Homo sapiens: one gene and its partners. Each later gene encodes a partner of the first gene's protein in a complex. Each region holds a gene or a part of one and is shown in the gene's direction. Other genes may lie near its edges.

What was found.
Region 2: the proteins of INTS11 (region 1) and INTS4 are in contact, whole or in part, in a cryo-EM structure (PDB 7BFP), measured with the Homo sapiens proteins. Residues at the interface, in NP_060341.2 of Homo sapiens: Pro183, Trp191, Lys194, Asp212, Gln288, Gln400, Gln404, Lys462, Met465, Ala466, Leu469; in NP_291025.3 of Homo sapiens: Leu159, Asp161, Thr162, Arg167, Tyr203, Gln207, Asp244, Ser292, Gly294, Trp296, Arg299, Lys323, Met326, Ser327, Asp328.
Region 3: the proteins of INTS11 (region 1) and INTS9 are in contact, whole or in part, in a cryo-EM structure (PDB 8RC4), measured with the Homo sapiens proteins. Residues at the interface, in NP_060341.2 of Homo sapiens: His94, Gln97, Ala98, His137, Leu138, His139, Gln140, Thr141, Lys274, His277, Tyr278, Lys280, Leu281, Phe282, Ile283, Pro284, Trp285, Arg291, Phe294, Ser449, Pro450, Ser451, Ile452, Pro453, Val454, Gly455, Ile456, Ser457, Leu458, Leu461; in NP_060720.2 of Homo sapiens: Glu127, Gly198 (codon at 3,461), Tyr199 (codon at 3,464), Ser200 (codon at 3,467), Gln201 (codon at 3,470), Lys202 (codon at 3,473), Tyr231 (codon at 4,590), Glu338, Phe339, Ile342, Phe343, Glu345, Gln352, Lys354, Val355, Tyr356, Leu357, Pro358, Glu359, Pro360, Pro361, Arg511, Arg512, Tyr513, Glu514, Lys515, Ile516, Glu517, Ile518, Met519.
Region 4: the proteins of INTS11 (region 1) and WDR73 are in contact, whole or in part, in a cryo-EM structure (PDB 8R22), measured with the Homo sapiens proteins. Residues at the interface, in NP_060341.2 of Homo sapiens: Tyr206, Thr208, Thr209, Ile210, Arg211, Asp212, Ser213, Arg215, Cys216, Arg217, Glu218, Arg219, Asp220, Leu222, Lys223, Lys224, His226, Phe255, Arg258, Met259, Leu364, Val384, Glu385, Tyr386, Ser388, Lys418, Lys419, Glu421, Phe422, Gln425; in NP_116245.2 of Homo sapiens: Asp5 (codon at 4,914), Asp6 (codon at 4,917), Leu8 (codon at 4,923), Val9 (codon at 4,926), Ser11 (codon at 4,932), Leu12 (codon at 4,935), Tyr15 (codon at 5,478), Gln16 (codon at 5,481), Phe18 (codon at 5,487), Tyr19 (codon at 5,490), Ala20 (codon at 5,493), Phe21 (codon at 5,496), Asp22 (codon at 5,499), Leu23 (codon at 5,502), Glu50 (codon at 6,412), Leu52 (codon at 6,418), Arg59 (codon at 6,439), Leu68, Phe69, Pro70, Glu71, Arg72, Asp73, Phe74, Lys75, Val76, Gly79, Phe81, Asp116, Ser117.

The regions. Positions count from the first base shown.
Region 1 is NC_000001.11:1,321,657-1,329,387, reverse strand, and holds the start of INTS11 (integrator complex subunit 11), read left to right. Parts: upstream 1-4,727; 5' UTR 4,728-4,779; coding exon 4,780-4,807; intron 4,808-6,100; coding exon of another isoform or gene 6,101-6,211; exon of another isoform or gene 6,212-6,496; intron 6,497-7,403; coding exon of another isoform or gene 7,404-7,480; intron 7,481-7,731. Other genes in the region: CPTP (ceramide-1-phosphate transfer protein), read right to left, coding at 1,625-2,147, 2,356-2,477.
Region 2 is NC_000011.10:77,991,668-77,999,200, reverse strand, and holds the start of INTS4 (integrator complex subunit 4), read left to right. Parts: upstream 1-4,532; 5' UTR 4,533-4,557; coding exon 4,558-4,611; intron 4,612-7,533. UniProt on the Homo sapiens protein: Component of the integrator complex, a multiprotein complex that terminates RNA polymerase II (Pol II) transcription in the promoter-proximal region of genes.
Region 3 is NC_000008.11:28,809,956-28,816,969, reverse strand, and holds part of INTS9 (integrator complex subunit 9), read left to right. Parts: intron 1-3,357; coding exon 3,358-3,478; intron 3,479-4,508; coding exon 4,509-4,643; intron 4,644-7,014. UniProt on the Homo sapiens protein: Component of the integrator complex, a multiprotein complex that terminates RNA polymerase II (Pol II) transcription in the promoter-proximal region of genes.
Region 4 is NC_000015.10:84,651,271-84,659,175, reverse strand, and holds the start of WDR73 (integrator complex assembly factor WDR73), read left to right. Parts: upstream 1-4,892; 5' UTR 4,893-4,901; coding exon 4,902-4,942; exon of another isoform or gene 4,943-5,476; coding exon 5,477-5,544; intron 5,545-6,373; coding exon 6,374-6,462; intron 6,463-7,905. Other genes in the region: NMB (neuromedin-B isoform 2 preproprotein), read left to right, coding at 1,024-1,180, 1,828-2,000, 3,772-3,906. UniProt on the Homo sapiens protein: Component of a multiprotein complex required for the assembly of the RNA endonuclease module of the integrator complex. Associates with INTS9 and INTS11 in the cytoplasm, stabilizing the INTS9-INTS11 heterodimer and blocking the active site of INTS11.

The DNA.
Region 1 (7,731 bases):
TTTGCCGGCACCATATGCAGCTCCCACAGACCCTGAGGTGGGGGTGACATCCAGGAAGACTCTGCTGAATTGCATCCCCTTTCTGTCCAGGCCACTGTTGTGGCTGGGAGTGGCCCCCACCTCCACGCACACATCCCACGCAGGCCTCTCCTCTTTTGCATGGAGAGGCGGATGTCTGCCCTCCCAACCGTCCTCCCAACCCAGCCTCTTGGTTCTGGGTGACTCTGTCTCTCTCTTGTCTCACCTGTACAACAGGCATAGTGATGGGACCTCTCTGGGAGAATGGGCACACAGCAGCCCTGCCTCCAAGGCTGGCCTTTTCTCAGGGTGTTTGTTGAGCCCTGGGGCTAACACAGCCCCCTGAGCCTGGCAGTGGGGCCTCAGCTCCCTTGGAGTTAGGTGCACCCACCTCAGCTGTGTCCCTGGGGTGAGGGCCCTCCCCACCCTCACTGGGTGCCCCTGTGTCCCCCTGCAGGAAATCAGGCACCCAGTGCACCCCAGCGTCTCCCTCCTGGGAGGCTGTGTGATTTATTAACGTTGGAAGACATCACATAGATTGCACTCTGGAAGCTCGCATGTCTGCTGGGCCGTGGGGGCCGTCCCTCTGCCACCCCGAGGTGCTGGGGTCCACTGTGAAGAGCCAGTGGCCAGGCCCCAGGCACTGGATGGTGGCTGGGCTGGTTGTGGCTGTCTGGTAGCCTTTGGCTGGGCCACAGGGTCCAGACCCTCCTGTTCCGTGCCCCACGGGTCTCCTGAGCACTGTGGGGAGGGGGCATCAAGGGGCACGGGGGAGAAGGGACACAGCATTTCACTGGGTGTAGCAGAGTCCCAGCTCCTGGGGGCCTTGGGCTGGGCTGGGCTGTGCAGACCCACGGCCGCTGCGGGAGGCGGCCTGCTGCGTCCCTCGGGGAACTGGTGCCGTGCAGGGGCTACGGAGGAGGCTGTCCCAAGGGCGGGGACTTCCTGGGCCCTTCTGTGAGGAGCCTTGGTCTCAGCTTCCGGCTGTCCTGCCCCCAGTCTGCCTGGCACGCTGAGGGGCAAACAAGGCAGGAGAGGCGGGGAGAGCCCCACAGTGCCCAGACTGCTGTTGAGGGTTTCTGCCAGCCAGGGCATGGAGGGCACTGAGTCCCCTGGGCTCAAGGCTGCCCACCTGGGCAGACACGGGGTCCCAGGCACGGGCCTGAGATGAGGACACATCGGCTGGCAGAAAGGAGAAAGGATGGAGCCTCCACACCCCGGGACCTGTGACTTCACCCTGGTTCGCAGATGCACCCCACAGGCTAGGGGGTGGCGACCTTTCGGGCTCTTGCAGGCCCGGCCCCCACCCCTGCCTGCTCTGCTCTGCACCGCACCCTGGCGAGGCCTGGCTGCGCACGCGTGTAATAGGCCGAGGGGGAGCCGTGGCCGAGGCGTCTTGTTCCGGACCGAGAGGGTGGGCCTCTTCTGGGCTGGTCGCCACCTTCTCTGTCACAGTCTGTGGTTCCTAACCAGCTCAGCTCACAGGGGCGACAGAGGATCTCCTGTTCCCGCAGCGCCCAGAAGGCTCTGCCACGGGACTCACGGCCCTGGCCACCGCAGCCCAGATCTGCAGCAGGAAAGCCGGTGCGGCCCTGGCTTCCCGCCCCTAGGGCAGGTCCAGCAGGGAGTGCTCGGCGTAGAGCTTCTGGGAGACGTTGTAGACACGCTGGATGAAGGGGAGGGCCTCGCCTAGCATCTGCACGGCCTGCTCCGGGGGCCCCACGTTCATGGCCTCCAGGAAGACCTCGCGTGTGGGCAGCGTGCAGAAGGCCACGGTGACGGCGCGGCGCACGACCCAGGGGTGGTAGGCGGCCAGCGAGGCGTTGTAGGAGTCGGCGCAGAGCGCGGAGGTGCGTGCGTCCTCGGGGCTGGTACGCAGGCCCTCCAGGAACAGCTGCAGCCAGTGCAGGGCGCGGTGCAGGCGCAGCACCGTCCGGCAGCCAGACTCCGGGTGGTGGGAGCGGCGCTCCAGGTCCACCAGCCGGTTGCTCAGCTCGTGGGCCACCATGGCCTGCAGGCTGCGGTAGTGCTCGCTCTGCGGGCCGCCCCTGAGGCGCTCCATGATCCGCAGCTTGGAGACCACGTCCTTGGAGATGAATGAGAAGATGGTGCCCAGGCTGTTCAGAAACCTGTGGAAGGGAGCGGGGCTCGAGTCCTCGCCCAGGCCTGGGGCAGCCCGCCTGGGGTGCAGGGGACGCTGCCCAGCCTGCGGGGGCTCACACCCATCTGGAAACGGGCAGCAAAGCTGGTGGGGACAGGCAGTCGGGAGGCAGATGCCACATATGGGACTCGGGCCAGGGGAGCGCCCACCTCAGGAGGCAGCCCTGGCACACGCACCTGACCAGGCCCTTCCAGCTGGCAATGTAGGGGTCCAGCAAGACCTCTTCCTTCTCATCGAGACACTGCTTGAAACTGACCAGGACGACTTTCAGATTGAAACCTGTCTCCGAGTCATCCATTTTTTGATAGGAACGGAAATACAGTAGGGCTGGGGGGCTGTGTCGCTGGGGTCAGCTTGCTCTGTGGCTCATTTTCTGTGTGTGGAGGGGAACAAAATAGCTGCGATCCCATTGCCGCTCACTGAACACTCATGCCCCTCATGGAGCTTCCTCCCAGGAGCTGCCTGGCTCTGCTCCCAGCCAAGCCGCAGGCTCTCAGGCACACCACCCTGACCCACCCTTCATCAGGATTGCGCATTCAGGGACCTTGGCACAGCCCCTCCTGTGGATCAGGCCACTGACTCCGTGTCAGTCCCTGACCCCGAGAGTGGCCCCCTCTGGCTTTATCAGACCACTAGGCCCCGCTGTCTGCAGCAGGTGTCTCTGCTGGTGCTTTCTTGTTTTTGTTTCTCTCTCTAGATGCTGTATCTGCTTTTACCAGCTGGAGAAATACTAAGCCCCTGCCGAGAGCCAAGCACCATCCTAGCCATCTATCTGGGTGCATGGGGAGTGCGAGCAGCCATCTGGGGTGGGGTCAGATGACAACAAAGACAGGAAGTTCTGAAGTCCTAGACAAGAAAACAGACACAGCAGAAAGCAGAGACAGGTGGGGCCGGGGGTGGGGGGATGCTGCCGGGCAGGCTGCCCCATCTTCCTCACTGCTACATCCCCAAAAGCAGAAAAGAGGCTGTAGGGCTGGCACTTGCTGGATGGATGGACACGTGTTTTCACTCCTGTTGCTGAAACTCCATGTCCCACACAGATGGGTTTTACCACTCAGAAGATTGCCACGAGGCTCTTGTACTAGCCCTAGGGAGCCTTCCACGAGTGGCCCAGGCCCTGCTTTGGATTCTGCTGGCATTCACATAGTCACTCCACAGATCCACAGACATCCAGGCACCCATGCTTTGTGTGAGTGTTGCCAAGCACCCTTGCCCTGTCTCCCCGGGTGCCCCACGGGCCCGCACCTGCTCTGGGGAACCTGAGAGTCAGCTGCATTCCACCTCGACCAGGAAGAGGGCCTGGGGGTTCCTAGGCCGGTTGGTGCTGGGAGCCCTGTCCTGGCCTCCCTGGCTGCAGGGACTCCATCGGTGGGGGAGGGGGAAGGGCACCCAGCCGTGGTGAGAGCTCCTGGCCAGGAGCAGGTGGGCAGGTTGCTCAGCACCCTAGGACTGGGCCCTTCATCACTAGGGATCATGGGCTGCAAGCCCTGCCCAGCCCGTGGCCCAGGCTGCTGGAGCACTGGTGCCTGCAGGGTGCTGAAGCCTGGCGTTGCAGGCCCCACAGGTTGGGTTGCATGCTTGGCACCAGGCGGAGGCCCCAGATGTGAGCTCACCGGGCTTCAGGTGTGGGGGATGGCTGCTCCTGGGCCTCAGAAAGATGCAGTCCCATAGACTTCCAGCACGCCCCTCCCCTCCTCGGGCCTTAATTTTGTCCACTGAGAAGATGGTCTCTGAGGCTCTGGGGTTTCCTTCTTGGTCACCAGATATTCTGCGGGCCTTGCCTTCCTGCCCAGATTCGAGCCAGTGGCAAACAGAAGCTGCCAGGAGCTTCTCAGAGCTGTGGCTGGTGGCTCGGTAACAACAGGAAGGGCAGTGGCTGTGCAGGAGGCAGGCAGCTTGCCAGCCCAGGAAGGTGACCCAGGACACCTCCAGGCCTTTCCCAGGGCAGCCCAACGGCCCAAGGTCAGGGCCGGGCGCGAGGGCGGCCTGAGCACAGAGCACGGGGGCTGACAGCAGGCTGGGGGGCCAGCAGGAGACGGGGCCCCACGGCGCCCCAGGCCTTGTGGGTGGGACCAGACCCTGTCGAGCGAGCGCTACGAGTCTCACCTGGGAAGGGGGCTTCAGATGGCACCGGACTGGATGGGCACCGGTTCGGGTCCCTGCTCCACCGAGAGGCCCAGGAAGGGGCGGAGGCCCGGGGTGGTGTTGGGGAGGGGCCGACCTGAGCCACGGCTCCGTCCTGCGCGGGAGCCGGGTCCTCGGCCGCCCGCCCGCTCCGGCCCTCTAGGACGACGTCCCCTCCCGCTCCCGGCCCCTCGGCGACTTCCGGACCGTGCGGGTTGGGTTGGGCAGGTGCGGCCGCCGAGTCCGAGCCGCTCACCTAGGCCGTAGCCGCCGTGCGGGCCCCGTCCCCGCCCACCGCCCCGCCCTCGCCCCGCCCTCGCCCGCCGCCCTGATTGGTTGGATGCTGCCCAATCAGGAGGCCCGGCGCCCCGACCCGCGTTTCCGGCTAGCGCACCGGAAGTTGCAGCGAGGTGGTTGCGCCTGCGCAGTGCATCACCGCAGGCGGGCCTCGCGGGTCCGGGAGCGCGGCGGAGACGATGCCTGAGATCAGAGTCACGCCCTTGGGTGAGTGGGAGCCGCCGGGAGGGCTGTGGGGTGGGCTCCGTATGCGGCTCCGGGCGGGCTGGGCGCCCCGCTCCCTCCCGTTTCTCGTGGAGCCAGGTGCGCGCCGCGGGCGTCCTCCGGTCTCCTCCCCGCGCGGGCCCTGGTGGGAGCCGAGAGGCGGCCTAGTCCCTGCACCCCGGGCCTCCGGCAGTGACGCGAGAACGCGAGCCCCGAGGTTCAGGCGGCCGTGAGGGGACGTCGCAGATGGGGCCGCGGGGCCTTCGCGCTCGCTGTGCGCTTTCGTCGGTGCCTTGACCTCCCCGTGCCGCGCGCTGCCGCCTCCAGCCCTACCAGCCCTTCAGTCCCTTAGCCCCTCAGCCCCGCAGACCCTCAGCCCCCCAGCTCCCCAGCCTCTCAGCCTCCCAGCCCCTCAGCCCCCCAGCCCCTCAGCCCCCCAGCCCCCCAGCCCCTCAGCCCCGCAGACCCTCAGCCCCCCAGCTCCCCAGCCTCTCAGCCTCCCAGCCCCTCAGCCCCTCAGTCCCTCAGCCCCCCAGCCCCCCAGCGCTCCAGTCCCCCAGACCCTCAGCCCAGCAGACCCTCAGTCCCCCAGCCCCTCAGTCCCCCAGCCCCTCAGCCCAGCAGACCCCCAGACCCTCAGCCCCCCAGCCCCTCAGCCCCCCAGTCCCCCAGCCCCCAAGCCCCTTAACCCCGCAAGCCCCTCAGCCCCCCAGCCCCGCTTCTGCCTCCTCACGTCTTGCTTTCTGTCCACCACTCTGTGTGCTCACGCCCGAGTTACAATCAACTCTCACTTTAGCTCTTGTTCTACCTGATTTCTGCAACACTGAAAAAAATAGCAAAAAACGCAAATATGTACTCCTAAAAGTCCTGACAGTCTGGGCACTGTGGCTCACGCCTGCAATCACAGCACTTTGGAAGGCAGAGGTGGGAGGATCGCTTGAGCCCAGGAGTTCAAGACCAACCTAGCCAACATGGCAAGACCCCATCACTCCAAAAAAAAAAAATGCTAAAATTGGCAGGGCGTGGTGGTGTGTGCCTGTGGTTCAAGCTACTTGGGAGGCTGAGTTGTGAGGATTGCTTGAGCCCAGGAGGTTGAGGCTGCAGTGAGCCATGATTGTGCCACTGCACTCCAGCCTGGGTGACAGCAAAACCATGTCTCAAAAGAAAGTCAAAGTCGTAACAGTATAGAACGATGTGAAGAAGGAAAAAATTAGTCAAAATCCAGGGTCTCAGAAACAGCTGGAGGGACATGGTGTTGGTGGCCAGTCATCCTGATGTCCTTAGCGTTTTCCACAGGTGCCTGCCCTGTGCTGTCCTGGAACCTGGTCCTTCCACCGGGCAGGGGGTCGAGGGCACCTTCCAGCACAGACACCAGGACGGGATTCCATGTCCTCCCCCATGGCGTGAGCGCTTCCTCGGAGGGTGCCCCCCGCCCCGGTGTGGACACTGTGCTGTGAACACCCCTGGCCTGTGCACACCCCATGGCATTTTGCAGCTGTTTGCATGGGCCCCACTGCCCTCCCCTGCTCTCTGGGTCCTCCGTGGGGTCCTCCCAGCCTGCCCCTTTCCCATTTGGCCTCTTGGCTGCCTGTTCTGCCCACTCTCTGGACATCTGATCTTTCTGATCTTTCATGTGGCTTCAATTACCCGCAATCTGTACCTGGGTATATTCTCAAGGTCACCTCAGCCAAGGTATCATCAAAGCCGAAGTCCTGTTTCACCGCTTCCCTGCACCAGGGACTGCCTCGGGCTCCGTGTCCGCGCTCACTGGACCACTGCTGTGTCCTTGGGGTCACTCCCACGCCTTGGCCTGTGTGTGGCTACCCCCCCCGCCGCCGGTCCCCCTACCCACCCTGCCCATCCCTCCCCACCGCCGGTCCCCCCACCCACCCTGCCCGTCCCTCCCCCTGCTGGTCCCTTCCCTCCCCCCTGCCTGTCCCTCCCTGCTGCCTGTCCTCCCTCCGCCCGCCCCGCTTCTTCTCCTCCCCTGGACCATCCCTTCCCCACCCCGTCCCTCCCCCTCCCCCACCCTACCCCTCCCCTCCCCTGCTCAAAAGTTGGCTTCTCGGAGCAGTCTCCTGTCATGGTTCTGGAAGTTTTGAGGCTTCCTCATTCTCTCACCTTGCTCTTTTCTGTCATAGTAACCTTCGTCTGGCGTGCTTTGGGTGTCTTGTTTGTCTGCCGTCTGTCTCCTTGCTGACAGGGATATCTCCTCCTGTCTTCTGAGCCCTGTCCCCTCGTGTATCTCCAGGCTCTATTCCCGCACCTTTCCACTTTCCTTCCTGGGATCACTGTGGGTCCTGTCGGGAGGCGGGACTGCCAGTACTTCAGGACTGGGCTTTGGAATTCAGAAAACCAGCCCGGGCCCCATGCCTCGGGGCCGTGTGCCACAAGTGCCTCTGTGGCCTTAGGTCCCTGGGCATGAAGAGGGGCGGCCCTCCCTTCCCACAGGTGCCAGAGGGCCTCTGTGAGCCTGGCGTGGCTTGGGGTAGGAGATGCAGAGGGAGGAGACAGCTGAGACCCTGCTCTCAGAGAGCTCACACCCAGCGGGGGCAGGAACAGGCCTGGAAGAGAACCTGAGATCCCCTCTCTGTGGCAGGCAGCCCCTCGGCTGTGGCCCCGTCATCCTGATGTGTGGTGCTGGCTTTGGACACTTCGAGTGGCTGGCAGGGGGAGGTGGGTGGGATTCAAGGGGAAAACTGTTCACTGCCATCAGACTCCTGCCCAGGCACAGTCTGTGCAGGGGCCGTGACCCTTTCCTCTCGGGCCCCCAGGCCACATGAGGGGGCTGAGTGTGCCTTGGCTGGCCAAGGCCTCTGGCTGGAGCAGCTGGGCAGGGCTGCTTGGCTGTCAGGAGTGTGGGAGGGCTGCAGATGAGGGTCTGTGTTGGGGGCTGCATGGTGTGCAGTGGTGTGAGGCTCGTGTTG
Region 2 (7,533 bases), on another chromosome or scaffold:
GCTTAGACTCAAAATTAGCACGCTGTCACTTCTACCACATTGTATTGGCCTGTCACAAGGCCAGCACAAATTCAAAGGGTGATAATATAGATTTCATCTCTTAATAAAAGCACCTTCAAAGTCACACTTCAAGGGGTATACATACCGAGAGGGGGAGATTTGGGGCTTTTTTTGCAATCATTCAACTACACACTGGATCCTTTCCATCATGGAAGGAGCAGTGATTTGTCCTCACAGGAATAGATTCATATTCCAAATTCAGATTTGACTTCCCTGCCTGCAATATTTCTGCCAGCTCCATCATCTATGGATGCCTCATTCATTATCATAGTACTCCACACATTGCTTCTGATTAAGGAGCTTATTTTATGCTGAGAAAATTGTAGTGAAGAAACTTCTTGGTCTTGCCAGGAACCCCATCATTCAGATGTAGGTGCTATAATAAAGCAGAATAATAACCTTTTGGAGATTCAGTTATAGCGCTAGTCAAGAGCCAACACATTGTGAGTTTGGGCCGCTGTTTGTGGCATATGCCTTATACCAACAGCTAAAATATAGTACTGCTTCTCCCACAGTTAGAACATGGGTCTGGTTATCAAAGGGTGGAGATAGGAGCAGTTCCTCTCTCTTTTACACCTAATAATTCATTTATGAATTCTTGGGCTCAGTAGGTTTGGAAGACTTACTCCCCAAGGGAGGAACAGTTGCCCTAGAGAACATAGTCATTGTTCATTACATTGGACATGTAATGAGACTGTCCCCAGACCACTGGGGCTCTTGTTCTGAACCAGCAGGTAGAGAAGAAGTTACTAAGTTGGGCTGCTGTTATGCAAGAGAGAGAGAAGACTGAAGCCTCACGGATTCATTCACAGGTGAACCTTAATGTATTTTCATAAGTAATAATAAAAGTCAAAGGAAAATGGCATCAATACAATAAAGACGGTTTTTCAATTCAACATTAAAGAATGTGTGTTCTTGTTTCTATACCAATCTGGCTCATTGAGAAGTTGGCTATACCAACTTCTCAAATTTATTTATTTATAATTTAAAAAAAATTTATATAGCCAGGCGTGGTGGCTCATGCCTGTAATCCCAGCACTTTGGGAGGCCGAGGTGGGCAGATCACTTGAGGTCAGGAGTTTGAGACCAGCCTCGGCAACATGGTGAGACCCTGTCTCTACTAAAAATGCAAAAAGATTAGCTGGGTGTGGTGGCGCATGCCTGTAATCTCAGCTACTCATGAGGCTGAGGCAGGAGAATCGCTTGAACCTCAGAGATCGAGGCTACAGGGAGCCACGATTGTGCCACTGCACTGCAGCCTGGGTGACAGAGATAAACTCCATATAAATTTTTTTTTTTTAAAATATAGAGACAGGGTCTCTTTCTGTTGCACTGACTGGTCTGGAACTCCTGAGCTCAAGGGATCCTCCCACCTACCACCTCCCAAAGTACTGGGATTACAGGCATGAGGCACCATGCCTGGCCTCAACTTTATTTTTATTGCTTCTTCTGTTCCCTGCATGCACTTAACTTTCAACATGAACTGAAGTTCCTTTGGTTTTCGGAATGCACCAAACTCCTTCCTAAAGCCATTTATTTATTTATTTATTTATTTATTTATTATTTTGAGACAGGGTCTCATTCTGTCACCCAGGCTGGAGTGCAGTGGTGCGATCTCAGCTACTGCAATCTCTGCCAAGCGGGCTCAAGCAATCTTCCTACCTCAGCCTCCCGAGTAGCTGGCACTACAGGCATATGCCACCACGCCCAGCTAATTTTTTGTATTTTTGGTAGAGATAGGTTTTCACCATGTTGCCCAGGCTGGTCTCCAACTCCTGAGCTCAAGCTATCCTCTCACCTTGGTCTTCCAAAGTGCTGGGATTACAGGTGTGAGCCACCGCACCTGGCCGCCATGTATTTAATAACGATGATAATACTCTGTATCATTGATGCTATGATGCACATTTAATGTCTCCGAAATCAGGAGATGTTGGCCAATCGCTCATATGTATACTGAGTCGTAGCAGTTCATGGTGTCATCGCTTCGACTGAGCTCTGTGCAATTTTGGAATTACATGTGTTATTTTAAATTACTATTAAATATATCTCCAAATAGATTACCCTATAATTTGGCATTAAAAAGTTCTTATGTGCACAGGAAGACATGGAAACAGCAGTGCGAGGTAAGATACAAATCTATGTCTAAATAAGTTAAAAAGAGCTGTTTCTGTAAGTATACATAACAAATCTAAGCAATTAGAAACCATTGTATTTAATTTCAGCATTTCTTTTCTTAACATAATAAATAAAATATTGATTTTACAATTGCTGGCAGCTTAGATTTGATAGAATATGATAATGGTAATAATAGCAGCTAAGCTTTATTAAAGGTACTGTTTGCTAAATGTTTTTCATTTCCCTTGACATATTTGTATATCTTATCTCGGCGGTCTGGGATGCCTTTGTTTCTGGAAAAACTCATTCTTTTAAAGCTGCATTAGAAATAGTTTCCTTTTTTTTTCTTTTTTTTTTCTTGAGACAGAGTCTCGCTCTGTTGCTCAGGCTGGAGTACAGAGGCCCGATCTCGGCGCACTGCAGCCGCTGCCACCTGGGTTCAAACGATTCTCCTGCTTCAGCCTCCCGTGTAGCTAGGATTACAGTCACCCACCCCGACGCCCGGCTAGTTTTTGTATTTTTAGGAGAGACGGGGTTTCACCATGTTGGCCAGGCTGGTCTCGAACTCCCGACCTCAGGTGATCCGCCTGCCTCGGCCTCCCAAAGTGTTGGGATTATAGGGGTGAGCCACCGCGCCCAGCCTTTTTTTTTTTTTTTTTTTTTTTTGGAGACAGGGTCTCACTCCGTTGCCCAGGCTGGAGTGCAGTGGCTGGATCTCGGCTCACTGCAACCTCCACATCCCAGGCCCAAGCGATTTTCCCGCCTCAGCCTCCAGAGTAGCTGGGACTTCAGGCGTGGGCCACCATCATGCCCAGCTAAATTTTGTATTTTTAAAGTAGATTTCGCCATGTTGCCCAGGCTGGTCTCAAAACTTCTGAACTAGGTGATCTGCCCGCCTCGGCCTCTCAAAGTGCTGGGATTATAGGCGTGAGCCACCACTCCCAGTTTCCTCTAATTTTAGGAAAGCCTTCCCTGAGGCACTCTGAAGAAATTAGGTCTGTTTGAACCACATTCATTCCCGTTACCCAGCACATTTCAGTTGCACTGTCACCATCAGTTTGGGTGTCTGTCTTCTCAGATTGTAGGACCTTGAGGATAAATACTATCTTTTGTTTATTTTTGGGTCCTCTGTATCCACCTCAGCCTCCTGCTTTTTTTTTTTTAAACTATCCCACATTAATTCTTTTTTTTTTTTTTTGATAACGGAGTCTCGCTCAGTCGCCCAGGCTGGAGTGCAGTGGCGCGATCTCGGCTCACTGCAACCTCCGCTTCCCATGTTCAAGTGATTCTTCTGCCTCAACCTCCCAAGAAACTGGGATTACAGGCGTGTGCCACCATGCCCCGACTAATTTTTGTATTTTTAGTAGAGACGGGGTTTCCCCATGTTGGCCAGGCTGGTCTCGAACTCCTGACCTCAAGTGATCCATCCGCCTCGGCCTGCCAAAGTATTGGGATTACAGGCATGAGCCACCGCGCCTGGCCCACATTCTTTTGAAAGACCAAAATAATGAACAGCTAGTTTCATGTAGGTTGTAAAACTTGACCTTGGATTTACTGACACTAACATGTGCACTACACCTTACAGTCCGTAAAATGTTCCTGCATTATTTCACTCCATTGTCACATCTTTGTCAGGTTAGTTATTATAAATGCATTTGTAGTTGAGCCATTTGCTCAAGAACCAGAGCTGTAGTCTGTAGCTTTGTTGCTTTATCCTTGGTCTCAGAAGTCTTCTACTGTACTATAGCTATCAGAGCAGGGATTGATGCCTTAAAGGATGGCAGCTTTTGCAAAACTGGAATAAGGAAGTATGGAAAGGCACCCCAAAACAAGAGAGGTGGCGCACAGCTTGAACAAAGGCAGTGCTCAGGAAACCTACAAACAGCATCGTGTACAGCAAAGGATGATGGGAAAGTCAGCCGAGCCTCTGAGTTTTTTCACGAGTCGTAAACCCCTTACAGAGCTCCGGGTTTTGCCTCTAGCTCTGGAGCACCCCGCCTCTGCCCTTTAACCTGTACTTCCTCCCTCCCTCCCTTCGCGCCGCGCCGCGCTAGTCTCTTAGCCACTCCGAGGCCACCAACCAGCCTCCCAAAGCTCCCATTGGGTTGCCCACCCTTTCAGTCTCAGCTCCTCCCGCCAGAGGCCCCGCCTCCCACAAGCGAAGCTCTTATTTCCGTTCTTCCGGCGTAGGCCGCCAAATCAGTCCGTACAGTGGCGAGGCAGTCGAGCAACAGGAAGCGGTCGCTCTTTCCCCAAATCCCACTGCCTTGTGGGATCTCGGCAAGTCATCCACCCACCCCCCGCGCCTACGCAAGTTTTCCGGATCCGTCCACCCCCGCCTCCCTCCTAGTGTACGGAAGCTGAGAGGGCCCGCGGGTAGGCATGGCGGCGCACCTTAAGAAGCGGGTTTATGAGGAATTCACGAAAGTGGTTCAGGTAAGCTCTGGCGGGAAAGATCCAGAACCGATCCGGACCAGGGTAGATTATCCAAATCCCAGGCACTTTGCCGGAACAGAAGAGGCTCCATACGCCCGTGTTAAGTGCTGACTTGTTGATAATCTCTGATATTGCAAGTTAGTGGGCGTGTTAGTTTGCAGCCGCTGTTGTCATTAATATGTGAAGTCTGACAGGATTTTAAAAAAATTATTAGGAGAAACAGTGTTTTTTAATTTACGAAACTGTCTTATCCGTTATTTCATTTTATTCTCTCACACAACTTTGCTCCATCGCGTTACATTAGCATCCTCGTTTTCCAGATGTGGACATTGAGCCTTCCGGAGGGGTACGAGGATACAGCCAGTTAGCAGCAGAGCCCCTTCTAGCCTCCCCGCACCCCCGTTCCAAAAAAAAACCTCCCAGGGACCAGTTGGAATATACACAAGGTTCTAAGGGGCTGAAAGAAGGGTCTATAGAATTCCTTCAGGCGCAGTCTAAGCAGGCGGGGGTCACAGACTTCATAGGGGAAGAGCTCTCTATTGGTAGAACAGCTCACCTAGGAAGGAGGGCAGTACCTTCCTCACCATGAAGTTGTGACAGGTGGGCAGAGTCCCTGTCGGGAGTCAGTGATGCTCCATGTGTCTCCACGTAGATGTTGCTAGGGTTGATCCTAAATCATCCTGATGTCCTATTTCTCAGATATTAATGTGTATACAAATTACCTGGGGACGTTGTTCAAATGTCGATTCTATTTGATAAGTCAAGCAGAGGAGGTGAGGCAAGATTCTGCATTCCTGACATGCCCCCAAATTTACACCAGTGCATTGGTTGCATTCTTAGATCCTTAGACTTGTAGAGTGGCAAGGCTTAGAGCATCCAGCAGGATACTGATCCTTAAACATTACATGGATTCATTCATCCAGCATTAAAATATGTTAATACAAATACAAAATATGTCAATACATAATATAAAATTTACAATTTTAACAATTTTAAGTATAAAGTTCAGTGGCATTAAGAACATTAGCACTGTTGCACAATGTGATTTCCTCTCTTCCCAACATTCTGTTGTTCCCATTTCCCAAGACTGCTCAGCCCTCTTCCACCCATCCTCACATGACCAGATATGCCATGTGTTCTTGTGTTTGCATATCTCAAAACTCTTGCACTGGTTGTCTCTTCTCACAGAATACATGCCATTCTTCCCTTTCTTTTTGTTCTCCACCCAGTGGACTTAACATTTGTGCTTCAAGACCCAAATGAAACCTCAGCGAGAGCTTAGTCTCTTCTTCACCTGTTTCTGTAGCATTCTGTGGTACTAATCTATTTGTACTTTTTGTTCAGTGCTGCTGTCATTACCGGTGTACCTATCTTCCCACCAGTCGGAGGTCCTTGATGGCAGAGCTAATGCCTGGCTCATCTCCGTGTCCTGGAGATGGACAATAGGGCCTGGCTCACTAAAGTGTTATTGGTGGTTGAATGACAGTTGATATTGCTTGTCCTCTCCCTTATATAATACTTAGGGAAAAAATTCCTAGCTTTTGACCTAACTACAGCTTCGATAAGACTGAAAACTGAGTTTGAGAGGACTAGGATAGAAATGGCTAAGAATTTTAAGGGAAGAGCTAATTTCTTCACTTAATTTTTCATCAGTTGTTAACATAAAGTGATTAAATGAGATCTTAGTGCTTCTGTTCTTTTTTCTCCGCTGAAAAGATGAGGAGGGAGAACTGATATGTGCCTAGCACTTACATATACGTATAATAAAGTTATGTTTAATAACAGATTTATCGACTAGCTCTGTGATAATAAAGTATTGGTATGCCCTCCTATAGAAGAAGGCCTTCCCCAGCTAGTAAGTTGTAATTGAATACAAATTCCTCTGACTCCAAAGTCCTTATTCTTTTTATCATGTCATACTGTGTTCTTGTCTAGAATAATTCTACTCTCTTTTCTATAGAAATGTGAATTTGTAAGGAGGTGATTGCTCAGTACATAAAAACGCACCATTAGGTGGTAAGGAAATTTATTTTATTTTATTATTATTTTTTAACAGAGACAGGATTTCACCATGTTGCCCAGGCTGGTCTCGAACTCCTGGGCTCAAGGGATCCTCCTGCCTCAGCCTCCCAAAGTGCTAGGATTTCAGGTGTAAGCCACTACGCCCATCGGATATTTGTTTCCTTTTCTTCTGTTTTGAGATGGAGTTTCGCTCTTTTCGCCCAAACTGGTGTGCAGTTGCGCAATCCTAGCTCACTGCAACTTCTGCCTCCTGGGTTCACGCAATCCTCAGCCTCCTGCATAGCTGGGACTGCAGGCATACACCACCACCCCCAGCTAATTTTTGTGTTTTTAGTAGAGATGGGGTTTTGCCATGTTGGCCAGGCTGGTCTTGAACTCCTGGCCTCAAGTGATCCGCCTGCCTAAGCCTCTCAAAGTGCTGGGATTACAGGCATGAGCCACCATGCCATGTCTGATATTTGTTTTCTAATAAAGAATGGACTTTGGGAGACTGAAGCAGAGGGATCACTTGAGGCCAGAAGTTCGAAACCAGCCTGGGTAACATGGCAAAACCTGTCTCTACTAGAAATACAAAAATTAGCCATGTGTGGTGGCACACACCTGTAATTCCAGCTAGTTGGGAGTCAGGGAGGTGAATCGCTTGAACGTAGTAGGTGGAGGTGGCACACACCTATAATCCCAGCATGTTGGGTGTCAGTCAGAGAATCATTTGAACCTAGGAGGTGGAGATTGCAGCAAGCCAAGATTGCACCATTGCACTCCTGCCTGGGCGACAGTGTCTTGCTCTGTCTCAAAAAAATGGAGTAGATCCTTTGTGTGACCTCTAAACCCAAAGGCTACCACAATCCTCAGAGATAGGTAGAGCAAAATGTTAGTGTAAGGCTGGGCACCGTGGCTCAT
Region 3 (7,014 bases), on another chromosome or scaffold:
ACAGACACTTCTCAAAAGAAGACATTTATGCAGCCAAAAAACACATGAAAAAATGCTCACCATCACTGGCCATCAGAGAAATGCAAATGAAAACCACAATGAGATACCACCTTACACCAGTTAGAATGGCAATCATTAAAAAGTCAGGAAACAACAGGTGCTGGAGAGGATGTGGAGAAATAGGAACACTTTTACACTGTTGGTGGGACTGTAAACTAGTTCAACCATTGTGGAAGTCAGTGTGGCGATTCCTCAGGGATCTAGAACTAGAAATACCATTTGACCCAGCCATCCCATTACTGGGTATATACCCAAAGGACTATAAGTCATGCTGCTATAAAGACACATGCACACGTATGTTTATTGCGGCACTATTCACAATAGCAAAGACTTGGAACCAACCCAAATGTCCAACAATGATAGACTGGATTAAGAAAATGTGGCACATATACACCATGGAATACTATGCAGCCATAAAAAATGATGAGTTCATGTCCTTTGTAGGGACATGGACGAAATTGGAAATCATCATTCACAGTAAACTATCGCAAGAACAAAAAAACCAAACACCGCATATTCTCACTCATAGGTGGGAATTGAACAATGAGAACATATGGACACAGGAAGGGGAACATCACACTCTGGGGACTGTTGTGGGTGGGGGGAGGGGGGAGGGACAGCTTTAGGGGACATACCTAATGCTAAATGACGAGTTAATGGGTGCAGCACACCAGCATGGCACATGTATACATATGTAACTAACCTGCACATTGTGCACATGTACCCTAAAACTTAAAGTATAATAATAATAAAATTTTTAAAAAAGGAAAAAAAAAAGAAAGTCAGTTTTGCTAGATATATAGTCCTTGGCATGCATTTTCTTTCTTTGAGTATCTTAAATATGTTCTCATATTTTTTTCTAATATTAAACATTGCTATTAAAAACACTGATAAAATCTAATTTTCTTTCCTTGTAAGTCACTTGTTCTTTTCCTAGATCCCAAAGGTTTGCTTGTAGTCTAAATATTTTCCAGAATATGTCTGTTGTTCATTGTTCTGGGTCAGTATTCTCAAGTGTACACTGTGTTCTTTTAGTGTGTAGTTTCGTGTCTCTTCATTTTAGCAATTATAGTATTTAGTAATTGAATATTATGAGTGTTAATTATTATTCTCACTTGGTTTTCTGTGATGCCACATAAGATTCCCTTATGTGGCATCTTGCTTATCTGTCTTCAACATTTGTTAGGTTCTTTTGAATTGTTTAAATCTCTTCATTTCTTTTTGGTATTTTTTATTAATCTACTCTTGTGTTTCTATTACAGGTTGAGTGTCCCTTATGTGAAATACTTGGGACCAAAGTGTTTCAGACTTCAGACTTTTTCCGATTTTGGAATATTGCTGATTGAGCATCCCAAATCCAAAATCCAAAGTAATCCAGTGAGCATTTCCTTTAAGCGTCATGTTTGCCTCAAAAAGCTGCAGATTTTAGACCATTTCTGACTTCAGGTTTTCAGATTTGGGATGGTCAACATGTAGTTTAGTCTTCATTTCCAAAATGATGTTTTCTTTTATTTCTAATTCTTTATTGAGTTTTGTCACCTCATTTATAAGCTTTGCTGGTTTTTCATGTATGTACCTCTTTCACGTTTGTATAACTTTTAAATCTTTTTAGCTTATTTGAAATTCTGGTGTATTGTTGGCATGCTTTCACTCTCTATATGACATTGTATTTCTAATTTGTAACAGCTCTTTTTATTCTCTTAATCTTTTATTTTGTAGCAATCTCTTCTCATTTCTTAGCTATACTATCTTATTTTTCTAACGATAGTAAGGACAAGCTGTTCTTAAAGTTTTCTTCTACCTGCCTAATTTATTTCTTCTAATTTCCCTGCCTGCTCCTCTGCCCCCACTTGAGGCCTTTATTATTTTAGAGACTTTTCTCAAATTTATGGTAGTCCTTGGCTATTGGCTCATGTTTAAGAGTTGAACGATTAAAAAAACTAATTAGAAAGTCTATGTGCCATGGGTAGGACTTGTTCACTTCCACACTTTACCATAAAGTAATCTGATTGAGCTGTTTCTTTGTGGAATCCTCTGCGTTAGAATCTTTTCATTAATTTTTTTTCTTTGAGGCTGATCGGATTCTTCAGAGAAGATTCTTTCAGCCCCCTACCCTGAGGGGAATAAGCTTACTCATAGTGCTTTGGCAGCCAAATGAGGAGAGGAACATTGTTCCTCTGTAAATTTTTGTTTAGGAAGGCTGTCTCAGTTGATGGTTTCCCGTAGTCCAGACTTTCATTTTTACTCCCTCCAGAGAACAACCTCTGGTAGCATACCTGAGAGGAGAAGGGACATCTGCTGAGCTATATGGAAGGAATGAGGAGATCTGGAAGGTTCTAAGTATCTCGTCTCTTTTTTCAACAGTTCCTCTTGTTTTTAGGTTGATTCAACTTCCTGATACACCTGTTGTTTTCAGTTGCCATATTTTTTGTGGGTTCTGCAGTAGAAATTAAACGTTTGCATTGAACTTTCCTGGGCCTATGAAGTCAGTTATCATTTGTCTGTCTACTTTCTAAAATGCCTTGCTATTGTCTCTTCTCTCATTCTCTTTGTCTTAAGGGTGTGTGTGTGAGAGTGTGTGTGTGTGTGTGTGTGTGTGTGTGTGTGTGTGTGTGTGTGTGTGTGAGAAGCCCTGTTCAGTGTTGTTTCAGGAGAGAGAGGAGAGGCTAATGGCATGCATTCATTTCACCCCAGTACTTGGACCTGTATTGTACAGTGAATGTCAGGGAAGTTACTCTTCAGGTCTCCTGATTCTTTTGGAGCAAATGATAAAACGTTTTTCTGTTGACACATTTTGGGCGACATAGCAAGACCATGTCTCTATTTTTTTTTTTTTTTTAAAAAAAGAAATGGCTGAGCACGGTGGCTCATGCCTGTAATCCCAGCACTTTGGGAGGCCGAGTTGGGCCTATCACAAGGTCAGGAGATTGAGACCATCATGGCCAACATGGTGAAACCCCATCTCTACTAAAAATACAAAAATTAGCCGGGCATGGTGGTGGGCGCCTGTAATCCCAGCTACTTAGGAGGCTGAGGCAGGAGATTCGCTTGAACCCGGGAGGTGGAGGTTGCAGTGAGCCGAGATGGCGCCATAGCACTCCAGCCTGGTGACACAGTGAGACTCTGTCTCAAAAAAAGTAAAAATAAAAACAGAGAAATGGTCATAAAGGAATCCTATGAACAATTATATGCCAGTAAATTAAACCATTTGGATCAAATGGACAAATTACTAGAAAGGAATGCTGTAGAACATGAAGAAATGTTCACCTGGTAGTTGACATTGTGATCCATTTGCAGGCTGTTACCTTCTCCTCTCAAGGATGCAGTGGAAGTCTCAACCTGGAGAAGATGCTATACAATGCAAGAGGTGAACTCTGCCCTTAGTAAAATCCAGCTGGTGGGATATTCTCAGAAAATTGTGAGTATTCATATTACATTTCAGTTATTCATGAATGCTTTCCATTCATATTGTTGTTTGTTGTTTGGAAGAATCCTATAGTTACGTTTTTAAAGCCATTCCATTGCTGAGGATCCAGAGCCTCTGTTCTTTCCTCCGTTCCGCGCAGGATTTTATTGGTGCTCTTTCCCCACCCTCACATCTCCATCACCAGCCAGCATTCGATTGGCCAGCGTGCAGGGAGTCCGGAGAAAGGCGTCTCATCCTGTTCACATTAGATTTTATAGATTTTGGATGGGTGAAACGGGAAGAGAGAAGAGTTTGTCAAGTGTGACTTTTGAGCTCTGACCTAAATGATAAGCCTTCCCATTTCTTACTGTCATCCTGTGCCCAGAGCTACTCAGTACCGAACAACAAGGGCCTAACACCTAACTGAAAATGAAAAAGGAAAGCCAAAGTGTGTGAGTCTTTGGTCTGTTTGGTAATATTTCATCTCTCCCTTTTAATGTGTGAACCTTGAGTGCCTGGGGACATGGAAGAGAGCTGAAGCTCTCAGGTGACAAGTAAATATTATAGGATTGCTTTCTTTGTCTGCCAGTTGATCTCCATCATCTTTCTGTTTTCCTTAAAACTTTCTAGTTTACTTTATTGATTGATTGACTGAGACAAGGTCCCACTTTGTTACTCAGGCTGGAGCGCAGTGGTACAAACATGGCTCACTGCAGCCTCAACTTCCCGGGCTCCAGTGATCCTCCTGCCCCAAGTAGCTGCTTGAGGACTACAGGCATGTGCCACCATGCCCAGCTAATTTTTGTATTTTTTTGTAGAGACAGGGTTTCACCATGTTGCCCAGGCTGGTCTTGAACTCCTGGCCTCAGCCTCCCAAAGTGCTGGGATTACAGGCGTGAGCCATTGCACCCAGTCTCTGGTTTACTTTAAAATAATTTTTGTTTTTAAACTGAGGATATTTCTGTTGTTTTTCCCTGCAGAATTACCTCATGTGACTGTCACTGTAAGCTCATTGCACATTCTTACTGTGGTTCTCTTTTAGGAGCTTTTTGGTGCGGTCCAGGTGACTCCTCTGAGCTCTGGCTATGCCCTTGGGAGCTCCAACTGGATCATCCAGTCTCATTACGAGAAAGTGTCTTATGTCTCTGGATCCTCCTTGCTTACCACACACCCCCAGGTAATTCCAAATTCTCTTCTAGCAACTCAGCTTTTTGGTTACTTAAGTCAAATTCAGAATGTATCCAAGGAACCATCAGCCATTTTTAAATCTTCCAAATATGGTTTTCTACAGATACTCTCTAGCCAAGGTAGACTATTTGAGTCTCAACATTTTGACCTACAGGTTTCTCTGAAATAGTCCTGCTACCTTGAGGGTCACTCCTAGGATTCTGAAATCCCCCAGGCCTTCCAAAGACCATAGCCTGATGTGGGACACAGATGGTTATGCATTTACTCAGCAAATATTAACTGTTTAAAATCCTTCCCAAGGGCCAAGTGTCAAGTGTCATGCACACATCTGGGTATTGGGGATTCAGTGGTGACCAACGGGCAAAGCATGTGCCCGTAGATCTTATGTTGTAGGGGAGTTGATGATGTTGGGGAGAGGATGGTGTATAGTAGGTAAACAAATAAAGTGCCTGGTCATTTCCGATTGAGATACAAGTACTGAAAACAGTAAAGCAGGGTGATTTTCAGAATGATGGCCATTGGTTTAGATTGGGTGCCCAGGAAAGCCAATGGGAAGATCTCACTTGAACTGAGACCTGGAGAGATAAACCATGTCGGCTGGGCGCGGTGGCTCATACCTGTAATCCCATCATTTTGGGAGGCCGAAATGGGATAACTGCTTGAGCCTAGGAGTTCAGGACCGGCCTGGGCAATATGGCAAAACTCTGTCTCTACAAAAAATACAAAAATTACCCGGGTGTGGTGGCACACGCTGTGGTCCCAGCTACTCAGGAAGCTAAGGCAGAAGGATCGCTTGAGCCTGGGAAGCGGAGGTTGCAGTCAGCCGAGATTGCGCCACCGTACTCCAGTGCGGGTAACAGAGTGAGATTATGCCTCAAGAAAAAAAAAAAAAGGCCGGGTATGGTGGCTCATGCCTGTAATCCCAGCACTTTGGGAAGCCAAGGCGAGTGGATCACTTTAGGTCAGGAGTTCAAGACCAACCTGGCCAACATGGTGAAACCCCATCTCTACTAAAAATACAAAAATTAGGTGTGATGGTGTGCACCTATAATCCCAGCTACTTGGGAGGCTGAGGCGGGAGAATCACTTGAACTCGGGAGACAGAGGTTGCAGTGAGCTGAGATCATGCTGCTGTACCCAGCCTGGGTGACAGAGTGAGACTCCATCTCAACAAAAAAAAAAAAAAAGAGAGAGAAAGAAAAAAGAAAAACAGAGAAATTAGCCACGTAAAGCCGTGAGTGTTTGTATTACAAAGGGATGGCCAGTGAAGGGCCCCTAAAGTAAGAATAAGCTGGGCATGTTTGAAGGGCAGAGAAGGCTATTGTGGTCACAGCGTGGAGGTCAGCAGTGAGGTCCAAGAGAGTGGCAGACACCATGTCATGTAGTGTTAGCAGGCTGTGAGGAGGAATTTTGGTTTTATTTTAATATGGAGAGGGAAACTATTGGAACGTTTTAAGTTATTCATTCCAGTCATATTTGGCAAGAAGCCTAGCACATATAAACATTGTTATGAATGTGATACTTACTCCTTTTTGGTATTTGTAAATAATTTACTGTTCATTTCCTGAATGTTGGTTATTTCTATGTTTGTAATAGGGAGTGGGGGGACATTAGTTAGCTGTTGAATGGGTATATAGATACATTAGGTAACTTGTGGAAGTCCATATTACATTTGTTTATCTACATCTATTTACGGAGAGAGAGAGAGAGAGAGAAGGTCTTGTTCTGTCACCCGGACTGGAGTACAGTGGTGTAGTCATAGCTCACTGTAATCTCAAACTCCTGGGCTCAAGCAGTCCTCCCAAGTAGCTAGGACTATAGCCACCACACCTGGCCTATTTATTTTTTAACATAACCTCAAATTTTTATTGTCTTCATAATAAAACCAAAAATGAAGCTAAGAACTGGATCACTTGGCCTTTTCTCCTTTTATCCCTTCCCAGTTAAAAATACTTGTATCTCTAGTAGCCAGCATTCTCCTAGATCTGCAGTTGGGCCCAACACTTAAGCTTTAGCACAATCTCGTTTGTAGTTTTAGCCTTTTTCCAGAAGATTGGCTTGGTCTGCCTACATAGCCACCCCTTCCTGCCATTAAGCCACTTTCCCTTGGCATACAGATCATCTTTTCCCTTCTTGTACCATGTCACTCTGTGGGGTTGGTGCCAACCATGCTTCTTACACAAAGTCCAGTGGGTTTGAAGAACATTCACCATGTTAGAGCACTATCAGTAAAGAAAGAAAGAAATTATTCATTTTTTAATTACAAATAAAAATTGTATATATTTATGGTATGCATGATGTCTTGATATGTGCATGCATTATGGAATGGCTAAGTCAATAATTAACAGACCCCATTTTAA
Region 4 (7,905 bases), on another chromosome or scaffold:
GGGTCACAGCTTGTACATGGACTCCTGGGTGCAGTGCAGTCCTGGGTGCAGTGCTCTTTCCACTTTCTTGACCCAGAGGTCTGCTTCCTGCCCATAAGCCAGGCCCTCCAGCTGGATGCCCGTTCCTCAGAAGCGGCCCTTTGTCCCACCCTCCATCATTCTGCATTCCCATTCTGAGCACCTACTGTGTGCCAGAACATTTCCAGACTGTGATGCTGGCTGTGAGAGGGCAGAGAGCAAGGTGAACACGGGTCAGATTCCCCCAAAGGGCGGAGGTGATGGGGATTAGTTTATGGAAGTCCTTTGGTGCCTAGCACTTGGCTGGACACTGTAAAAATGCCTCTGTTAGCCTGGGAAACCTAGCGACATCCAGTCTCTTGGAAAGAAAAAAAAAAAAAGCCAGGCATGAAGGCGTGTGCCTGTGGTCCCAGCTTCTGGGGAGGCTGAGGCTTGAGCCCAGCCCTGGAGGTTGAGTTTGCAGTGAGCCGTGATCGCGCCACCGCACTCCAACCTGCGCGATACTGCCAGATCCTGTCTCAGAAAAAAAAAAAAAAAAAAAAAAAAAAGCCTGTTACCCGGGAGGAGAGCTCCTCGCCCGACCTCTACCCTCATGAAGAGAGGCTCAGAGGGCTGAAGTGCCTATTTGGCCGAAAGCCGTGGCAGAGTGGCAAGGCAGGGCCAGGGGAAGCGGCTCCGCCGCCGGGGCCGGGCCCCTGTTTGGCCGGTGCCCGGTCCTTAGCCTGAAGGTGGCGGGCTTCCGCCAGAAGCCCCTGGCGGAAGCGGTGCCCGCGTGCGGGCCAGAGTGTGGGTGTGCAGGTCTCTGGGCGGCCCAAAGGGGGTGCCCCTGCCTGGTAACCTAGCGGGAGGGTGGGGACGGCGGGGAGGGCGGCGGGCGCGGGGCACGGCTCCGCTGCTCAGGGCAGGCTCCGCCCCCAGGGGCGCGGATTTAAAAGGATCGAAGGCAGCCCCGGAGCCCAGCGGCCGGGAAGCGCGCCCGAACGAAGCCGCGGCCCGGGCACAGCCATGGCCCGGCGGGCGGGGGGCGCTCGGATGTTCGGCAGCCTCCTGCTCTTCGCCCTGCTCGCTGCCGGCGTCGCCCCGCTCAGCTGGGATCTCCCGGAGCCCCGCAGCCGAGCCAGCAAGATCCGAGTGCACTCGCGAGGCAACCTCTGGGCCACCGGTAAGTCTTTGGGGACGGAGCAAGCAAGCGCCCCTCATCCAGTTCAGACCCCATTTCCTTCTCAACCCTCTGGCCGCTCCTCAGCCACGGACACTAGTGTCGGAGCAGGTGGAAAACCCTGGGGCTCATCTAATTTAATAGATATGTACTTGAGACCCGGACAGGTCAGTGACTTGGCTAAGGTCGCGCAGCCAGTTTAAGACAGGGCTGGGCTAGATCCTAAATCCCACTGCCAGCCGGTGCCCCTTACCTTAGGCGAGACTTAACCGAATCTTCTAACCGCTGGTGTGTTTTTGCTGCACCTCCACTTTCCAGGCGCCTCTTCACTCTCCACTTCCTACCCTGCCCTTTTTCGTCCCTTGTCCAAGCAGCCCACACAACTAGCAGAGTTTCTCCCTGGCCCTGGACCATCCCACCTTCCTGCCAGCTGTGCCATCCTCTCTACCTGTTCAGGAAAAGCTGAGGGAGCAGGCTTTGCCACCACCCAGACACCTTTGTGGCTCCTTGGTGAGGTGGAAGCACCAAGAGGAGGAAGGTTAAGTGTCTTCCCGCTACAAGAACGGAAACGTGGGAGAGATGAGGAACTTTTCCTCTGAGGTAGGATCCTGGCTGCTTGACTTCCTTGTGCCTGGACACCTCCTTTCCAGGTCACTTCATGGGCAAGAAGAGTCTGGAGCCTTCCAGCCCATCCCCATTGGGGACAGCTCCCCACACCTCCCTGAGGGACCAGCGACTGCAGCTGAGTCATGATCTGCTCGGAATCCTCCTGCTAAAGAAGGCTCTGGGCGTGAGCCTCAGCCGCCCCGCACCCCAAATCCAGGTGAGCCGGGCCCCTGCTCCAATGTCAGGAGGGCCCAGCTGGGGCCATCCCCGGATCCTGCATGGGAGGAATTACCACCCAGTACTGTATTAGGGTGTGACTGTCTGACTAGGACATTATGGGTGTGGACCCCAGAAAGCCAGGTTTCCAGGCTTTTCCCTCTTGAGGCAGAGCTCAAAGGAGGAACAGTCCAAAGAAAGGAAGCTGACCTTCCCAGTAGACCCCATGGGGCAAGAAGTAGGGAAAGAAGTTCCCCTGACTCATCACCCAGTCTAAAGTAACAGACTGGGATCATCAGCCTTTTGGAGCAGGACCTTTCTCCCCCAGTCTACACAGTCTTGTCCCACCCATGCTGTTCCCTGCTGCATTAGTCAAGTCCACCTTTGCTGTGTCCTGTGTATGCTTGTGGCCGGAATGGGACCCTGAGGCCCAGAGAGGGAAAGAGAAGTCAGCAGCCAAGACAGAGTCTGGACCTTGTTCACCTGGACTGGAGCTCTTCCCATTCTCTCATCTGCCTCAGTATCCAGTGGTAGGGTTTAGCAACTTCAGTACATTTGACGTTCTAGGCTGAATCACTGTTTCTTGTGAGGGCTGACGTGTGCATCATGGGATGTTTGGCAGCATCCCTGGTCTCTACATACTAGATGCCAGTAGCATCTTTCCCCCCCATCAAGTTGTGACAACTGAAAAGACCTCCAGACATCACCAGATGTCTGCTGGGGGAGAGGGCCCCAAATCATTATTGGTTGTCAGTCACTGATCTATGGGATTCAAGACTCCAAAGCTGGAGCCAAGCTAGCCTCAAGGTATAGCCCCGCTGAGTGGCAACTCCTTCATTCCCTGCTCCTGGTGCTGTCCTTACTGCACACCACCCTCCCTGGTCCTGCTGCTGTGTGCAGAAGGCAGTGTGATGTGGTAGAATGTGGGTTTTGACTACAACGTGCTGGGCTCATAACCTAGCTACTTAGTAGCTGTATGACCTTAGAAATGTCCCTTAACTTCTCTAAAGCCTCAATATTCTTCACCCATAAAATGAAGATAATAAGGCCCATCTCCCATTAAATGAGACCATTTATGTCAAATGCTCAGCATGGTGCCTGGCTCATAGACAGCCCTTAGTAGATGCGAGCTCTTATCAGTCTGTGAGCTCCCTGGCGGCACCTGTTGTAGACTCGCCTTCATATCCCCCAGTGTGCCTAGCATATAGTGTGTGCATTTTGAAGGGAGAGGCATTCCCTAGAAAAGGTCCAACCCAGCCTCAACCAACATCCCTGACTTCCTGAGGCACAGAACCAGCAGCCCCTGAGGACCTCAGATGTAAGGCCTAGGAGCTTGGGCTGGCTGAGTCTGAAGGGAAACAATGTCACCTCTAATGCCCTTGGTTTTGAAGCTCTGACACATGCAGACCAACTAGAGAATCTCAGAAGCAGCAGTGCCTACGTCTGGGGCTTCAGAGTGAGGTCTGGGGCAGAGCTGGGGTGGGGGAGTGAGGACGCTGACACTAGCCCAGCACCAAGCACTGTATTTGGATTTTCTTCCACGATCTTCTTTGACTGTCATGACCACCCTGGGTGGTTGGGGCTGTGTTCTGAGAAAACTACTGCCCCGACCCCTCCAAGGCAATTCAGGGTGCTCTGGGGCCTGCCTCAGCTGACAGCCTGCTGGTGCCCACCTCTGCAGACATCTGGCACTTAGGAATGGCAGGATGCCCCTATCTTTATCAGGAGCCCCTCCCTGGCTCAATTCTTCTGTATGTTTCTCTTCAGTACAGGAGGCTGCTGGTACAAATACTGCAGAAATGACACCAATAATGGGGCAGACACAACAGCGTGGCTTAGATTGTGCCCACCCAGGGAAGGTGCTGAATGGGACCCTGTTGATGGCCCCATCTGGATGTAAATCCTGAGCTCAAATCTCTGTTACTCCATTACTGTGATTTCTGGCTGGGTCACCAGAAATATCGCTGATGCAGACACAGATTATGTTCCTGCTGTATTTCCTGCTTCCCTGTTGAATTGGTGAATAAAACCTTGCTCTTTACATACAATGCCTGGTCCTCTCCTTTCACCCGTCTTTTAGGGGATGGGAGGAAAAGGGGGCTGGAGGGCAGAGTGTTCAGTGAGATGGGGCTGGCTCAAAAAGTCCAGAATACCCCATGCCATGGCACCAGCCTGGCACTGACTCTGGCCTCCTACCCATTCATTCAGCAAGCAAATAACGCCTGTTGCATGCCAGGCTTCGTGCCAGGCGCGGGGTTCTACTCTCATCTCTGCCACCTACTGGCGCAGGCAAGTGTCACTAGTTTCCTCGCTAGTAAAAGGGGGCTGCAGACACTACACTGCCGGGCTTTACTCAATACCCCCGCCGGACTTGGAGGGGAGCGCCGAGTTGGGATCCAGACCCTGCCGGCCGCTTCCTCTCTTCTCTGGCCGTCAGAAGGGTTGCCAGCGTTAGCAAATAAAAATACTGGACACCCAGTTAAATTCGAATTTCAGATAAACAATAATTTTATCTAATAAAATGTACCAAATATTGCATGAACATACTCGTAAGAAAGAAATTATTCACCGTTTTTCTGAAATTCGAATTTAACCGGGCGGTCCTGTATTATTTCTGGCCTTGGAGCATTCATTGCCCCTCTCTTGGGCTGCAAACACCTGGCCCTAAAACGGGCGATCATTTGGTCCTCAGGTCCTGCTTGGAGCTGACAGCGGGAAAGTCCCGATTTCAGGTCACTTTTCCCGGAGCTTTCGCGGAGAAAACCCGTAACCCACCCATGCCGGGCCGCAGCTCAGCCTGTTAACCCCGCCCCTAACGGGAGGCCCTGCCCACATCTCGCGAGAGCCGCGCGGCCCCCGAAGGCTCGCAGGCGGAAGTGAGACGCCGGAAGCGGTCGTTGCCATGGATCCTGGGGACGACTGGCTGGTGGAATCCTTGCGCTTGTAAATCGTACGGGGCTGGGACATGGGAGCTGGGCCTGGAGCTTGCCTGGCGGGCGGATGGGTGTGGGTGGAGGCACGTTGGGGATCCTGGTGCAGAGTGGGCCAGCTGTGGCCTCGGGGCTCGCCACCGTGGAGGACTCCGCCTGGGCCTAGGCCCCCATCTCTAGGAAATGGCTCCTTCCTGCGTGCGCGCGTTGTGAGATTACTAGTAAGAGCCGCGCTTGTGAAGACGCAGTGCCCAGTTAGTTTGCGCCAGCCTCTGAGTTCAGCTCAGAACACAGATGATCTCATTGATTCCTCACGTCAACCTTGGGAAATCTGGGTACCCTGGGACGTCCACACATGAGGACCGAGGCTCAGGGACATCAAGGGACTGGCCTGGTCCCAGAAACAGGGAGTAAAATGGGAAGTAAACTCAGTCCCACGTCTGCCTGACTCCAGAGTTTGGGCCACTGAACCATGCGGCTGCCATCTTGGAGTTCTTTGAGCTGTGAAGTGCTGTGCATCGTGTGATTCTGTGTCCCTTTTGTGCAGGTACCAGGATTTCTATGCATTCGACCTGTCAGGAGCCACTCGAGTCCTTGAATGGATTGATGACAAAGGTGGTATACCTTTCTAGCCCTGAAGGAGAGGGAATCTCACTCCTGAGCTGGGTTTCAGGAGCTAAGCCTAGAGGGACCCAACCCACTCTTCTGGGCACCTGAGAGTCACTTGTAGCAATTTGATGCCCCATCAGCACTAATATTCCTCTTATTAAGATCTCTGACCGGGAGCAGTGGTTCACGCCTGTAATCCCAGCACTTTGGGAGGCCGAGGCAGGCGGATCACCTGAGGTCAGGAGTTCGAGACCAGTCTGGCCAACATGGTGAAACCCCGTCTCTACTGAAAATACAAAAATTAGCCGGACGAGGTGGTGCACACCTGTGTACCAGCAGCTACTGGGGAGGCTGAGGCAGGAGAATCACTTGAACCCAGGAGGTGGAGGTTGCAGTGAGCTGAGATCACGACACTGTATTCCAGCGTGGCTAACAAAAAAAGTCTTCAGGCTGGGCACTTCAGGAGGCTGAGGCAGCGGGCAGATTGCTTGATCCCAGGAATTTGAGACTAACCTAAGCAAGGAAACCCTGTCTCTACAAAAAATACAAAAATTAGCCGAGCATGGTGGCTCACGCCTATAATCCCAGCTACTCTGAAGGCTGTGGTGGGAGGATCACTTGAGCCTGGCAGGTTGAGGCTGCAGTGAGCTGTGATCGGACCACTGCACTCCAGCCTGGCTGACACAGCGAGACCTTGTCTGAAAAAGACACAACCAGGTACTCAATTCCTCCATACAAGGCTGCACAGTGAAGGAATGTATCCTTACTTCGGGGGATTGCATGGTCTGCAATCTTTCTAACAATTTGTGACAGCTACCTCTGCTTCTTTTTCCAGGAGTCTTTGTTGCTGGCTATGAAAGCCTGAAAAAGAATGAAATTCTTCATCTGAAATTACCTCTCAGACTTTCTGTAAAGGAAAACAAGGTAACTTAAAATATAAATGCTGAGTATGTCAACTTTTATTTATTTATTAAACATTTGTGGAGCTCCTGTTATCTACCAGGTATTGTCCTGGATACTAGAAAGAGAGAAAGCGCTAGGCCTGCCCTTCTAGTCTAACAGAGGGAGGCACATATGCACAGAGATAAATGCTGTAGAATGTCTCGTGGTTTACAGAGGGCTATCAGAGGAGGAGGTCAGTTATACTTTATCAGAAATAGATTTAGGGAGCGATTAAGGATATAGAGGGCGGTCGAAATGCGTAGAGTGATTAAAGTCACCTAGTGAATGTGTGGTATATAAGGAGTGAGGAGAATATAGTGAGGACGGAACCTCAGGGAACACATTTAAGGGATGAGTACAGGAAGATGCACCCCCCCTCCCCAAAGAATACTAAGAAAGAACAGCCTCTGAGGTAAGAGGAATCTCAGAAAAGGTCAATGTTTCTGAAGCCAAGAGAAGAGAACTTCTCAAGAAAAAAAGAGTTAGTAGCTGTCTAGAGTTCCAATAAAATCATTGAGAGAAGAATTGAAGGCCAGGTGCAGTGGCTTACGCCTGTAATCCCAGCACTTTGGGAGGCCGAGTTGGGCGGATCATGAGGTCAGGAGTTCGGGACCATCCTGACCAACATGGTGAAACCCCGTCTCTACTAAAAATACAAAAATTAGCCAGGCATGGTGGCGCACACCTGTAATCCCAGCTACTCAGGAGGCTGAGGCAGGAGAATTGCTTGAACCCGGGAGGCGGAGGTTGTAGTGAGCTGAGATCGTGCCACTGCACTCCAGCCTGGGCAACAGCAAGACTGCATCTCAAAAAAAAAAATCATTCAGATGAGGAATTGAGTTCATTCATAAGACTGGCAATTGGGAAACTCTTGGTGACCTCTGCTACAGGATTTTTGCTGGTGGTGGTCAGGCCCAAAGACTAAAAATGAAGAGGAAGCAGAGTCACGAAATGTAGGGAGGGAAGAAGCTAAAGCAGCAACTAGTCGGAAACACAGATCTGAGGGAAGGTTTCCTAAACACAGAGGCTTGAGCAGAGTTAGAAGCTATGGGAAAGTAACCCTTGAAGAGGGAGAGGGTGAAAATGAGGGAATATCACAGGGAACACGCTCCTGCTTCCAGGAATAGAAGGTGAGGATAGATCAGGAGTCCAGGGGATGGTATTAGTCATCAGAGGACAAGGGAGGAGTGAGGCATGCAGGCAGATGACCTTGAAGGGCCATGTGGGGGCAGGAATTTGAGTGTTTGCTCCTGAATTCCTTTTTGTTTTGAGACAAGGGCTTGCTCTGTCACCCAGGCTGGAGTGCAGTGGCGCGATCCCTGGCTCACTACAGTCTAAACCTCCCAGGCTCAAGTGATCCTCCCGCCTCAGCCTCCCAAGTAGCTGGGACTACAGGCATGTGCCACCATGCTTGGCTAATTGTTA